4 linked regions of the Homo sapiens genome follow. The protein of the gene in region 2 purifies or fractionates together with the protein of the main gene of each other region. This does not show direct contact. Each region holds a gene or a part of one and is shown on either strand. Other genes may lie near its edges.

Evidence for each region.
Region 1: the proteins of ZNF684 (region 2) and PHYKPL purify together in Homo sapiens (affinity purification with mass spectrometry; 2 studies listed by BioGRID and IntAct, with this or other methods). This does not show direct contact.
Region 3: the proteins of ZNF684 (region 2) and NAE1 purify together in Homo sapiens (affinity purification with mass spectrometry; one large-scale study listed by BioGRID and IntAct). This does not show direct contact.
Region 4: the proteins of ZNF684 (region 2) and ASAH1 purify together in Homo sapiens (affinity purification with mass spectrometry, with the first as the bait; one large-scale study listed by BioGRID). This does not show direct contact.

Annotation. Positions count from the first base shown.
Region 1 is NC_000005.10:178,230,003-178,234,218, reverse strand, and holds the start of PHYKPL (5-phosphohydroxy-L-lysine phospho-lyase), read left to right. Parts: upstream 1-1,416; 5' UTR 1,417-1,668; coding exon 1,669-1,727; exon of another isoform or gene 1,728-2,375; coding exon of another isoform or gene 2,376-2,550; intron 2,551-2,695; coding exon 2,696-2,814; intron 2,815-4,119; coding exon 4,120-4,216.
Region 2 is NC_000001.11:40,530,156-40,534,436, forward strand, and holds the start of ZNF684 (zinc finger protein 684), read left to right. Parts: upstream 1-1,481; 5' UTR 1,482-1,632; intron 1,633-2,987; 5' UTR 2,988-3,011; coding exon 3,012-3,026; intron 3,027-4,281. UniProt on the Homo sapiens protein: May be involved in transcriptional regulation.
Region 3 is NC_000016.10:66,804,678-66,806,976, reverse strand, and holds part of NAE1 (NEDD8-activating enzyme E1 regulatory subunit), read left to right. Parts: intron 1-950; coding exon 951-1,065; intron 1,066-1,150; coding exon 1,151-1,200; intron 1,201-2,299. UniProt on the Homo sapiens protein: Regulatory subunit of the dimeric UBA3-NAE1 E1 enzyme. E1 activates NEDD8 by first adenylating its C-terminal glycine residue with ATP, thereafter linking this residue to the side chain of the catalytic cysteine, yielding a NEDD8-UBA3 thioester and free AMP.
Region 4 is NC_000008.11:18,070,608-18,074,107, reverse strand, and holds part of ASAH1 (acid ceramidase isoform a preproprotein), read left to right. Parts: intron 1-831; coding exon of another isoform or gene 832-852; intron 853-2,717; coding exon 2,718-2,808; intron 2,809-3,500. UniProt on the Homo sapiens protein: Lysosomal ceramidase that hydrolyzes sphingolipid ceramides into sphingosine and free fatty acids at acidic pH.

The DNA.
Region 1 (4,216 bases), on a different chromosome or scaffold from region 2:
CACGGTCTGTGAGGTCTTGATCCTCAGAAACGAAGTACAGGCTGGGTATGGTGGCGTGCACCTGTAGTAGCAGGTACTTGAGAGGCTGAGATGGGAGGATCACATGATCCCAGGGAGGTAGAGACTGCAATGCTGCACTCCAGCCTGAACAACAGAATAAGACCCTTTCTTTAAAAAAAAAAAAAAATACAGGCCACAAGCAGTTAACCTCGCAGTTAATTTGGGAAGAATTTTTTCCAAAAATCATGTAAAATATTCAATTCAGCTTTACAGTTAAAAATAAGAAATTCCATTCTTTTAGGGAAGATGAAAAAGTCCTGTTGCATGGATGGTGGTGATGGCTGCACGACGATGTGAATGTACTTTTGCCACTGAATTGTATCCTTAAAAATGGTTAAAATGGTAAAATTTTGTTATGTATATTTTACACAATAAAGAAAAAAGAAACTCCAAATGTTCTTTAATAAATGCCTTAAGCGGCCGGGTGCGGTGGCTCACCCGGCCTGTAATCCCAGCACTCTGGGAGGCCGAGGCAGGCAGATCATCTGAGGTCAAGAGTTCAATAAATGCCTTATGCATCTTACAACTGTATTGGGAAGAGAAGAAGAAATCAGCAATGAGGGAGTGAAGCAGAGGCCTGGGAATCATGATGTGGACAGAAAGAAGGGACAATCAGGAGCCTCCCCTGCACCTGCTGCAGTCCCAGGCCCGTGTTCCAGGGTTCTTCAAGGCAGAAAGCCCCAGTGCCTCACCCCAGGAGGGGGCTTTTCTCTCATATCCCAGCCCCTTGGGAGGCTTTTTCTTCTCACTCCCTGGGCTGGGAGTCAAGAAGACCTCAGTAGGAGTCCAGCCTCTGCAGCCTTGCTGCGTGTCTGACAACAAAACCCTTTCCCTTTCTGGGCTTCAGGGTCACCGACATGTACCACAAGGAGGATTCCCAACCTCTCTTCTTGCCCAAACGCTGCATGATTCTCTCAGCGACGATACAGCTCGTCCGGTTCACCCTGCCTAGATTCTAGCAGGAACTATGGTGCCCTGAAGGTCAAGCCCATGGTGATCTCCTTGGTCAGCCCCAGAAGGGACCCTGGGCTCTCCTTCTGCTCTTCCTGCTGCCCCTTCATGGGGCTGGGAAAACCTAGGACCTGCTTCTCCCACCCTGAGGCCCCTACTGTGTACCAGGCCCGGGTAAGGTACCAGTCACATACTCGCACTTAGGCCTCACAGTTCATCCCATTTTATGCACAAGGCGACTCAAAGACTGAGTCTGGCCCAGAGAAGGCCTGCAGGAGCTCCGAGCCCCGCCTGGGCGCCGGGAGCAGGGGCGGGGTCGTCCGGGACCCTTTCCCGGAAGGGAGGCCGCAGGGGCCTGCGGGGCGGGGCCTGCGGGGCGAGGCCCGGGGCGCGTCCCGGAACCAGAGACGGGGCAGCGCTCGAGTTCCTGCGCGGGACTGCCAAGGCACGACCACGGGCCGGAAGGCTGCCAGGCCCAGTGGGCAAGCGAAGAAATGAACCACCGCAACGCGGGCGCTTCGGGGCGGGGCCGAGTGCGAACCTGAGCCCCAAATCCCGACCCAGGCAGGGGCGGGGCCCGGAGCGGGGCCTTGGAGGCCCAGCCCGCGCGGCGACGTCTCCGCGTGGCGTCACGGCACCGACTGACGGCCACCCACCATGGCCGCAGACCAGCGCCCGAAGGCCGACACGCTGGCCCTGAGGCAACGGCTCATCAGGTACCCGGGCGGGGGGCGGGCGGCGGGGGGCGCGGGGCTGCGCGGAGAGGCACGCGCACGCACGACGCACGCACGCACGCACTACGCACGCGCCTCCGGCTAGGAAGCCGCTGCTACCCATCCCGTCCGGCCGCTGCCCCGGCCCCGCTGGAGCTTCTAGGGCCCGAGGCGGGCGGCGCCGTTGGGCAGTCCCGGCGGGTGGTCTCCGGGGCCGCCTCCCCGACAGCGCCGTCTCCAGGCCGCCCAGTTCAGGAGACGGCCCCGCCCTCACCGCTGTTCGGCTGTGTCAGCCTCGCTTGGCAGCCTTTACTCCGGAGAAGACCTTCACCCTGGCGCCTGAGAGGACCTCACCCAGGGTGGCCCGTCAGCAGCACCTGGGCCTGGCTCGAGAGTGACCTGGGAGGGGGCTGAAAGGGCAGACAAGGGAGAGTCGGGGGAGTCGGTTCACAGGCAGCACACTTGACCTGTGAGGGGGCCCTCGGTGGGACGGTGGGTGAGGTCGCCTCCCACTGGAGCTTAGGGCTGGCACCCAGCGAGGGGCAGCAGGGCCACGTGGCTGGCAAGGAGCTGTTTAGGGCTGAGAGCCAGGCACCTAATGTTGGTGCCCTGGCCCATCCCATCGAAGACACGCGGCCTTATGGAGTCCCCATGGGACGGGGCAGCCACCTTTTCTCAGGATCCGGGAGACTGACGCGGACACATGCAGAAATGAGCAAGGAGGCCACAGAGGCTGAAAATGCTTTCAGAAACAATCCGAAGTTTCAGCGACTTGTTACCCCATCTGCTTCCTGCTTTGCAACCACCTGTGGAGTGGAGAGACAAGGCAGGGAAGCAGCACCTTGCCCTTCCAGCTCTCATTTCCCCCCCGCCACCAGAAACTGGGAAGGGGTGGGCGGGGGTCTGCGATGAGTAGACTTCACCCTTTCGGTCTTCAGACATGGCTGTCCACTCCTTGCCTGTCCCCACAGCTCTTCCTGCAGACTCTTTTTTCCCGAGGATCCTGTTAAGATTGTCCGGGCCCAAGGGCAGTACATGTACGATGAACAGGGGGCAGAATACATCGATTGCATCAGCAATGTGGCGCACGGTCAGTATCACACCTCAGGCTGGCAGGGCAGGAGAGGAAGGCAGTGCTGTGAACCTGGTCCCAAGGTGACCTGAGATTGCCGAGAGGTGTGGAGAACCTGGGTGGAGTTGAGGCACTGTCAGTATGCAGAGGAGGCTCAGCCTTCGCAATATAGCTGTGGAATTCTGCAATCTGGAGCTGTGCTAAACCAGGCAGGGGTCAGCAATCTAGGTCTGTGAGTCTAGTTCCACTTGGGACTGATGATGAGCTCACAAAGTGGCAGATGGCCCAGCTGTGACCAGCAACGTAGCACAGTGCTGGCCAAGTGCTGGGGTCATGGCAGTGCTTCAGCCCCATTGGCCATCTCAGGTGCTAGGCAAGGGAGCTGAAGTAGGAATTCAGTCATCTTGATGAGGCTGCCAGAGCTGATGGAAAGAAAGGGAGTCTGAGACTCAGCAGGCACATGGAAGATGAATAAAGTTGAGGTTAAAAAAAAAAAAAAAGCAGAGACTCTAGTCTTAGACTGCTTGGGCTCAAATCCCTGTCCCCTACTTACTAACTTGTGATCTCGGGCAAGTTACTTAATTCTCAGTGCCTCAGTTTGCTTATCTGTGAAAGACATAATGATACTAGGTACCCACTTTAAGGTGTTTGGAGAATTAAGTGTGTTAATTTATGTAGCTTGCTCTGAATGTGCCTGGCACATGGTGAGCTCTCAGTACATATTCACTGTTATTATCCTTGGCCTTTGACAATCAAGATTACCACCAGCCCCCTTGGCTGGTGAAGTGAAACCAGTTGACAGTCACCCCCCACCCCACCTTTGTCATACAAGCCTCAAAAGGCCTTCCAGCCTGGGCAACATAATGAGACCTTGTCTCTACCAAAAAAAAACTTAAAAATTAGCCAGGCATGGTGACTGGTGTCTATAGCCCCACCTGCTCAGGAGGCTGAGGTGGGAGGACCACTTGAGCCCAGGAGTGTGAGGATGCAGTGAATGCCATGATCACACCATACACTCCAGCCTGGGTGACAGAGTAAGGCCCTGTTAAAAAAAAAAAAAAAAGTCCTCCTTAAAGACATGGGCTTTCTAGACAGGGTTCTTCTGCTGAAGCGGCTTTCCTTCTGCCAGAATCTCAGGAACTCCTGGATCTGCCTTTCCAGAACCAGCTTCTCTCTCCCTGCTCTGCCTTCAGACTGCCCTCTTTCTACCTCTCCCTCTAGAACTACATCTCTTCTGGCTGGGTTTATAGCTTGGGGCTGGGGGAGGCCCAGTGGGACTGGCTGAGTGGAGCCAGCCGTGTGACGGAGGCGGCCCTCTTCCAGTTGGGCACTGCCACCCTCTCGTGGTCCAAGCAGCACATGAGCAGAACCAGGTGCTCAACACCAACAGCCGGTACCTGCATGACAACATCGTGGACTA
Region 2 (4,281 bases):
CAAGGACATTCCTCCGAGTAACTAGCCTGTCTATCCTGAATTGTGTATTTCCCGCCTCTACTGGATCTTTTGTTTTATTTTATTAACTAATTCATTTATTTGAGACAGAGCCTCGCTCTGTCGCCCAGGCTGGAGTGCAGTGGTGTGATCTCGGCTCACTGCAACCTCTGCCTCCCGGGTTCAAGTGATTCTCCCGCCTCAGCCTCCCAGGTAGCTGGGTTTACAGGCGTCTGCCACCACGCCCGGCTAATTTTTGTATTTTTAGTAGAGACGGGGTTTCACCACGTTGGCCAGGCTGGTCTCCAACTCCTGACCTCAGGTGATCTGCCCACCTAAGCTTCCCAAAGTGCTGGGATTACAGGCGTGAGCCACTGCGCCCAGCCTAGATCCTTTTAATTAGTACATAAACTTACTATAATTTCTTCCATCTTTTTTATTTTATTTTTTTGAGACAGAGACTAGCTCTGTCGCCCATGCTGCAGTGCAGTGGCGGGATCACGGCTCACTGCAGTCTCTACTGTCTGGGCTCAAGCGATCCTCCCATCTCAGCCTCTCAAGTAGTTGGGACTTCAGGCGGGTGCCATGCCAGGCTAGTTTTTTATTTTTTGTAGAGATGAGGGTCTCACTATGTTGCCTAGGCAGTTTCAGACTCCTGGGCTCAACCAATCCTCCCACTTTGGCCTCCTGAAATGTTAGGATTACAGGCATAAGCCACCACACTCAGCCCCATCTTTGAATTAAAAAAAAAAAAAAAATTAGAACGTGGAAAAACGCAACAACAAAAGATTAACAAAATCCCTATCCCATGATAGCCTTATTTTTCTGCTCACCTTAAAAACAAAACTTCTTAAAAGTATTGCGTATATTTGCTTTCTCCATTTCCTCTCCTCCCATCCTTCCCTCCAACTCCTATCAAATTTTCATCAGACTTTATCAAACTTCCACCACTGCCAAAATGGCGTTTCAACATCACTGGTGACCATTGCTACAGTGGCCCATTCTTAATTCTCATTTTACTTGACCTATGAGCAACATTTGAGACAATGGGTCACTCCCTTCTTGAAACACTTCCTTCCCTTGGTTTTGCAGATCTAAACTCTCCTACTTTTCCATCTACTTCATGGATTATTCCTTCTCAGTCTTCTTTGTTGGATCCTCTTCACCTCTCCGACTTAACCTGGTGCATTGCTAGAAGAAACCCTGCTGAGTAAGAGCAAATTGTTTTTAGCATACCGCCGATTTTACTTTCCAGTATTTAAAAATGCTGTGTATCCTTTTAAATGAAAACGACTTAAAAAGCGTGGCTCTCAGGCTAGCAATAGAGATACCAACCCGGGAATCTCCGCACCACCCCCCAAGAGGAAGCAGCGTCTGACGTCTTCCGGAAACGAGCTCCACTGGCCTTATGGGAAATGTGGTCTCCGACGGATGGCCTACACCCGGGAGGAGTCCAGGAACTCTAGGTGGACAGTTACTTCCGCACACGCGTAGTAGGACGGTAGCCGGTATTCAATCTTCAAATCAGCGCCGCGGGAAGTGCGGGCGGGTGTTGCTCCCCTGTCTCTGGACGACGCTGTGACTGATCCCAGGCTTGGAGCCGGAGCTGCGAGCGAGGCAGTGAAAGGGTGGCAGGTATGGCTTTGCTGGACTCGGAGGACGTAAGAGAAAGGCGGGGACTGGCTTCTAGGTTTACCCTACCGAAGATAAAACTTTAGTCTCCAAGCGCAGTGACTTCAGGTTTGGATATGTGGGTCCTGTTCAACTCGAGTAGCTGAGAGAAAGCAAGAGTTGGGCTCCGACTGGCACTGGGTAGATGTCCAGGGCTCTGGTGGGACTGGGAGAGGCTCAATTTGCATTCCTGCTCTTGTAGGTCAAGGTCACTATGTAGGAGTCTGTTCATCTAACTGTACCTTTCCTGGTTCCAAGAGCATAGTTGGCCCGACTGGAGCCTGCGACAATTTTAAGCCGTGTCAAGGGATCCAGTGGAAACTGTAAGCTATTTCAAGGGATCCAGGAAGAAAGCATTCTTGAGAAACTGCTATGGATTAGAAGGGTATTCTCAGCAATCATTTGAAGTAAATGCTATTACCATTTTGCATATGAGTTAACTGAAGCTGAAAGGTGAAATTACTTGCCTGGACTCACACAGCTTAGTAAGTGGAAGAACTGAGATTCAAACTCAGATACATTTTCTCCAAATTTCTTTTTTTTTTTTTTTACAGTATAGCATTCCTGCATAAAACAGAGTTGGGTTTATTCTCCTGAAATGTTTGAGCAATGAATGCTGAGTAAATTTCGATTTGTAGTCATTTTGTAGAGTCTCTTGGTGTATCTGCAGATCTTCCAGTGCAGACTGTGTAAATGAAGATGTGAGTCCCCGGTTTGCCCATTATACCCTTTCTAGAGCCCCAGCAGTTCTAAGCTCATAGGAGATGGCGAGTTTCTACAGAGAGAAACATTTGGAGTTTAAACTGAAGGATCCAGCTTAACAAAAAAAAAATAAAAAAAAGTGTTCCTGGGTCCCTGAATCCAGCCTTCTCAAGAAAGCCCAACCTAATTTGCAATCTCTTATCCCAGCGTCAGAGTAGAAACCAGAGAATCACAGGAAGGAATCATTTTTAGACTTACGGAGCTTCAGAGACCAAGCTTTTAAGTGAGTCAACTCATTCATTATTTCTTCAGGATAAATTTCTGGGAGGAAAAAAAATAACTGTTTCAAGAGGAACCACTTGGTGCTAGATCAGTAGGACAGAAACATATAACATCCTTATCTAAGCTCCATATATTCCTAACAATCACAAGTAGAGATCTGTGCTTATGGAACATGGACTTTTCTGTCTTGCTAGAAATGTCATTCTCCCCCACTAGGTGGCATTTTCTGAGGCTGCAGTGTGGGTACTTATGGTCTGATAGAGCAGGGTTCTACTTTGCATGCAGTCCTGGTATCTCAGGTCTTTCTATTCTCTTCCCCATTTCTACTTTCATAGATTTCTGTGTAAGAGCTGCAGAAAATGATCAGCTTCCAGGTAAGGTATCCATCTATTCATCCAGTTGTTTAAATCTCCCAAAAATCCATATGATAAAAAGGAAATGTATGGTCAGGAAAAATGTAAACCAAATAAAAGATCAAGTCTAAAAGGAAATTTAGAAGATTGGTAAGTTGATATTCAAGTCATAGGGTTTGCAGATGGTTGGAACAAATTTGAGCTGCAAATGTGTACTCAGTCTTCCTGGAAATCATAGTAAATGGATAACCAGCCAGTTAAAAAGTATTGGCATTGCTGTGAAGATAAAGCAAAATTATTCTCCTTGTAAGTAAAGTTTTTCCTGACACAGTTCTTTGAAGAAAATCTTTTCTAATGAGTTTTCACATAGATAACATTAGAAATAACATTCACAGCAGCAGCCTGCGATAAATACAGCATCAGGTTTCCTATGACTTTCTTAGAGTATTCCCTAGAGTAAGAACATAGTGCCAAGCAGCACTAAATGAACTCAATTTATAAGTCCAGGTATGTGGCCTTTTTAATGCCCACCTGGATCCATAAGTAAATCTTGTACCTTTTCCAGTCTCTAGCTATCCTGAGCATTTACTCTTCTACATGAATTTTAAGGTCATCAAAATAACAAATATTGTCAAGGTTCATAAAGCAGTATGTTAGGTATTCTTTTTTTTTTTTTTTTTTTTGAGACAGTCTTGCTCTGTTGCCTAGGCTGGAGTACAATGGCGTGATCTCAGCTCACTGCAACCTCTACCTCCCAGGTTCAAGCGATTCTCCTGCCTCAACCTCCCAAGTAGCTTGGATTACAGGCATGTGCCACCACGCCCAGCTAATTTTTGTGTTTTTAGTAGAGACGGGGTTTCACCTTGTTGACCAGGCTGGTCTCGAATTCCTGACCTCAAGTGATCTGCCTGCCTCAGCCTTCCAAAGTGCTGGTAGGATTACAGTTGTGAACCACTGCGCCCGGCCAGATATTCTTATTAGGATTGCATTAAACTTAATAGGTTAATTTGGAGAGAATTCATGACTTTTCAATGAGTCCTATTTATTCAGGTTTTCTTATAGGTCTTTTATTATAATTTTTTTTTTTTTTTTTTTTTTGAGACAGAGTTTCACTCTGTTACCCAGGCTGGAGTGCAGTGGCACAATCTTGGCTTACTGCAACCTCCATCTCCTGAGTTCAAGTGATTCTCCTGCCTCAGCTTCCTGAGTAGGTGGGATTACAGGTGCCCGCCACCACGCCCGGCTAATTTTTGTATTTTTAGTAGAGACAGGGTTT
Region 3 (2,299 bases), on a different chromosome or scaffold from region 2:
GTCAGTTGGCTTCTGCAGTTAACATTCCAAAAAACCCAAGTGGAAGGTACAGGGCTTTTTATGACCTAGCTTTGGAAGTCATACAGCATCACTTATGAGCTAAGTAACTTAATCTCTCTGTGCTTTAGTTTTCTCTTCTATAAATGGAGATAACTATACATACTTCATAGGACTGTTTTGAGGATTCAATCAATTAATATAGATATAAGGTCCTTAGAACAGTGTCCAGCATCTATTAATGCTCAATAAATGTGACCTATTATTGGCCAGGCATGGTGGCTCACACCTGTAATCCCAGCACTTTGGGAGGCCAAGGCGGGTGGATCACTTGAGGCCAGGAGTTCGAGACCAGCCTAGCCAACACTGAAACTAAAAATAGAAAAAATTAGCTGTGTGTGGTGGCGCACTCCTGTAGTCTCAGTTTCTTGGGAGGCTGAGGCATGAGAATCATTTGAACCCGGCAGGCAGAGGTTGCGGTGAGCCGAGACTGCACCACTGCACTCCAGCCTAGGTAACAGCAAGACTCTCTCTCAAAAGAAAAAAAAAAAGTTACCTATTATTAATAGCTTTATGTCCTCAGTGTCATTTATCATTTAGTCTTTTAGAATTGGAGAATAACTTTTATAAAGGGTATAAGTAGGACATTACTTTCTCATTCATTAAGTTCTTCTATCAAATAATTATTAAGCACTATGTGCCAGATGCTTTTCTAGACAGTGAATATGATGCAATTAATAAAGATTTAATTAAATTCAAATTTTTACTAGGTTTTAGTTGGTCTCTGATTATAGGTTTGTGATATGTGCAAATATTGGTCTCATACTTTGTTATTTTTGTTCTTCAGTTTCATACATATTTTGACTAGAACATCTGAAACTAGATTAAATAAAGGAGTTGGCCATTAATTTTGAATCACATTTATTTTAATGAAAACTAACTTTTATTTTTAGGAGTATCTAACTATCAAGTTGAAGAAGATATAGGAAAGTTGAAGTCTTGTCTCACTGGCTTCCTTCAGGAATATGGTTTATCTGTAATGGTGAAAGATGATTATGTCCACGAATTGTGAGTATTTTTTAGGGTATCTAGGAGATGATTCCACACCTGTCATAAGGCTAATCAAAATTCATGTCTCTGTGGTCTCCTTTAGTTGCCGATATGGAGCTGCTGAGCCACATACCATTGCTGCATTCTTGGGGGGTGAGTTCCATATATGAGAAGACTCACCTGTTGTTACATAGTACAGTTACTATTTTAATACAAAGTTTTGTCGTCTAGCTATTTTAATTAGGGAGGTCAGTGAAGCAGGATGTTATATTTCTTTCTTTTTTTTTTTTTTGAGACGCAGTCTCACTGTTTTGCCCAGGTTGGAGTGTATTGATGCCATCATAGCTCGCTGCAACCTCAAACTCCTGGGCTCAAGTGATCTCTCGCCTCCGCCTCCTGAATAGCTGGGACTACAGGCATGTGCCAGTAAGCCTGGCTAATTTTTCAATTTTTTGTAGAGACAGGGTCCCACTATGTTGCTCAGGTTAGGATATTTATTCAGTTGCCCCTATACTGGTCTCCCTGCCTTCCATCTCTCCCACTGCCATCCAACTTAAACTCCTTAAGAGTCATTAATCCTTCTAAAGCATAGCTCTGATTGTGTCCTTTTACTAACCCTCTGCCCCACCAATATACATAACACTCTACAACAGTCCTCCAAGCAAGTCCAAGGACTTTGGCTTGACGTTAAAAAACCCTGTGTTTTGGTTCCACTCGGCCTTTCCAGCCTTGGTTTTATCATATTACTTGCTTTCCCCCCAGGATGCCCTTTGATTTCCTGCTCCTAGATCTTTGCTCCTCTGTGCCTATTTGCCTTAAAAATATGTTTTTCTGCATGTCCAAAACCTATATGTTCTTCAAGACCCAACTCAAAAATGACATGTCTTTCATAAAAGCTCCCTTTACTTCCCTCCCTCACTCTACTTCCCCCTTGTCTTAGTCAGTTTGGGCTGCTGTAACAGAATATCATAGACTTATAAACAATAAAAATTTGTCACAGAGTTCTGGAGGCTAGAAGTCTGGGATCAGGGTGCCAGCATGGTCAGGTCTGGTGAGCGCCCATTTCCTGGTTCATAGGCAGCTCTCTCTTCTGTGTTCTCACATGGTGAAAAAAAAAATGGCAAGAGAAGTCTCTGGGGTCTCTTCTTAGGGCACTAATCCTATTCATGAAGGTTCTACGCTCTTGACCTAATCACCTACCAAAGGCCCTATCCTCATACAATTACACTGGGGGTTAGGATTTCAACATATG
Region 4 (3,500 bases), on a different chromosome or scaffold from region 2:
TTAGGTGCACTTTACATGTGTCTATAAATTGAATGCCCTGCAAACCATAAACCTTTCCTGATTAGGCATTTTACTGACTCTTATTGCCATGTGCATGTGAGTGTGTGTCTACCTATGTGCATACATACCTACATGTATACATACATATGTACTCCAAAACACATACACGTGTATACATGGACATAACTTGTATGTTTCTTTCCTTGCCTTCATTTTTTCGCTAGCTTTCTTTTTATCTCACTAGCCTGCTTTCCTACACAAAAAGCCTCGGCTTTGCTCTTATCCTTCTCTTCTCTCAACTCTATCAATGGATCTTGAGATTTAGGAGATAACTGTGGTATTTATGTACCTTTGAATGACAAACAGACGTTCTGTTCCTTTGAGATCATCCTTTTCAATTAAGTGCGTAGATTTGGGCAGCATCCATGGGCAGATATGAGGGAAGAAAAAGATAACCTGTTTGGCCAGCATGACTAGTCAAATCAATGCTGAAGATAAAGGAACTGATAGCCAGATCACCCCTGAGTCCATCTGAGTCCCATTCAGCATTTCTTTCCCACTGCTCACGGGATGCCTAGCACTTGCTCTCTTATTTGTATATGTGTGTGTTGTGTCACTTGGACTAGTTTCCATGCCACCTAGGTAGCCATGTGGGTTCAGGTGATGTTGCTGATATTATGAATGGCATGGACATTGCAAACACTAAGTCTCAAAAATGATGAAATGATATTTCTTGTTTGCAGTGAAGTAGGAAAATAAATTGTGATGACTACTGTTGATTGAATACCAATGCTGCTAAGTGTTTTTTTTATTTTTGCATTTTTCATATAGTGTCTTCCCTGCTGTTATAAGGTGGATACTCTTTTATTCTTATGGGGAAATGGAGGCGCACAAGTTAAATACTGAAATGTTTTAGAAAACTGTTTAACGAGAGGTAAAATGTGCAATTATGGCTAAGCTTTAGTCATTAAAATAATTTGGTTTATTAGATTAACCAGTTCTCTCAAATTCTAATTAGTGCAGGTTTGATGGTAGAGAGGTTTGTGGGGTCTCATCATCCCCACTTCATTGTAATCCCTTCATTGTCCGTTGTGTTGTGTTCATCCCCTCTCATCGCGTCTCTGAGATCCATGAACCTACCCAGGACTCTAGGCTGAAAAAGAATCAGGAATTTATGGCGGGTATAGAGGCATGATTTGGGATTGGTTGGATGTTATGAGGTGAGGAGCAGCTGATTGGAGTTCATAGGGATGAGATGCATATCTCCAACAGGCCACTGAGTTATCTTTGCTACTAGACATAGAAATCTAAATGCACAGTTGAAGGGAGAGGGGAGACTAGTAATACCTGCCCATAATATGGGGAACAATAATTACTTACTGAATTGTGGGACAAAATTTTACATGTGAAATTATGGTCTGTCAGAAATGGAATTAATTTGTTGTGATGAAAAGTTTTTTTCTAGAATATAAGTATTGTAGCATTTCATGTAGATATCAGCTCCTAAGAAAATGGGGAACTTGAAAATGCTTTGAGAAGAACAAAATTCGTTCACTATGATTTTGTTTAAATGTACATTTCCAAAATCGAATATACTTTTCTGTCTAAATCACAACCTGAATGTCTGCTAGTTAACAGTTTCATAAAACCTCATACATATACCAGGGCCCCAAGTTACACAGCATTATTTAGAGAACCAAGTAATTATTTATGATAGTGGAAATATAAATAGAACCACAGTTCATGACTTAGGTAATAACCCATCCCCAGCTATGGACATAAGTCTAGATAACATTTCTATTTAGGAGACTGGTATCATTGTGGCACATACCAGAGTCACCCTGCCAGTCTCAGGAGCAGATCAGTGGAACAGATGATGGTTATTTTTAGGCATAGGTTTATACTGATAAACCACTAACTGGCACACCCTTAAAAGCTATTTCAGTTTAGTAACCAGGGCCAGAAAATAATGTTCCTATAGCAACAAAAATAGTTGTAGAATTCATCCACCAGAAATATGGCCCAGCTTCACTGATAAGTGACTGGATGTTGCTATATCCTCAGAAATTGCTGCACGTAAGTTAAAGAGTAGGAAGTTGGAGGATATGACAGAATACAGCTTGGGCTTGGACTTTGTCCAGGAAAATGAGAAGAGAAGAGGTATATAGTAGGGAAGATTAGGATGGCTGACAGAATCATGAAGGTTCTTGAAGCTGATCGTGGGAAGATAATACATGTTGCCATCTGGGGCTTAAAAGGTGATCTTCCTGAAGGCAACACTGGAGACATTGGTTTGGCAATAGTGTTACACTCTCTGAGAGAGAATTCTGAAACTGGAAACCAATTGGAGAATTGTCTAGAGCCCAGACTAAATCTTTGCAGATATTTAGGAGAAAAAAAAAATGGCAGGTATTTCCCGTCAGTGATAATCAGGTTAGAGCTCTTAAGCCATAGTTGATTTTTTCATAGAAAACCAATTCACATGAACCTTCCCTACTAGATCATTCTATTCCAGGATTTCTGTGACCGCTTATGATTGTGTTCTCAACCTAGAAGCACTAGGTAGAGAATGAACTTTCTTTCCAAATTTTGGTTTGGGTAACCAAATTCTACACTGCTGTTAAGACTTTGCCTCTCATATATTCTTATAGATGTATCTAACTGACCCTCACAAAAAACCCTTTCATCATTTCAAGATGATACACCTCTCATTACAGGTACAGAGGTGCAGTTCCATGGTACACCATAAATCTTGACTTACCACCCTACAAAAGATGGCATGAATTGATGCTTGACAAGGCACCAGTGGTATGCTATGATGCTTAAATCTTTTATTTCTTTATTTTTATTTTTTATTTTATTTCTTTATTTTTATTTATTGATTGATTTTTTTTTTGTTTTGAGACAGAGTCTCACTCTGTCACCCAGGCTGGAATGCAGTGGCACGATCTCAGCTCGCCGCAACCTCCGCCTCCTGGGTTCTAGCAATTTCCCTGCCTCAGCTTCCCGAGTAGCTGGAATTACAGGCACCTGCCACCATGCCGGCTAATTTTTGTATTTTTAGTAGAGACAAGATTTTGCCATGTTGTCCAAGCTGATCTCAAACTCCTGACCTCGAGTGATCCTCCCACCTCAGCCTCCCAAAGTGCTGGGATTATAGGCATGAGCCGCCATGCCCGGCCATATTTCTTATTTTATTTATTTATTTTCCCCCCAAGGACCGTGGAGATTCTATATTAAATCTTTTATTTCTAACTTTATTAAATATTATTGTATTTTTAAAAGAACACTTCATGAAATTACCCACAGAATAGTTTAAAATTGTGCTTTTGATACCTTTCTGCCCTATACGTTAAGTGACAGCAGAGGAAAAGAGGTCATTCCTCTGTAGCCTTTGTTCTTTTTTGTAAACTTTACCTTTGTTTCTTTCCCTTTATGTCATCTCCCTTCATGTAAATAATTAAGAATCAAATTCACTTTAAAGATAAAATTAGACTTAC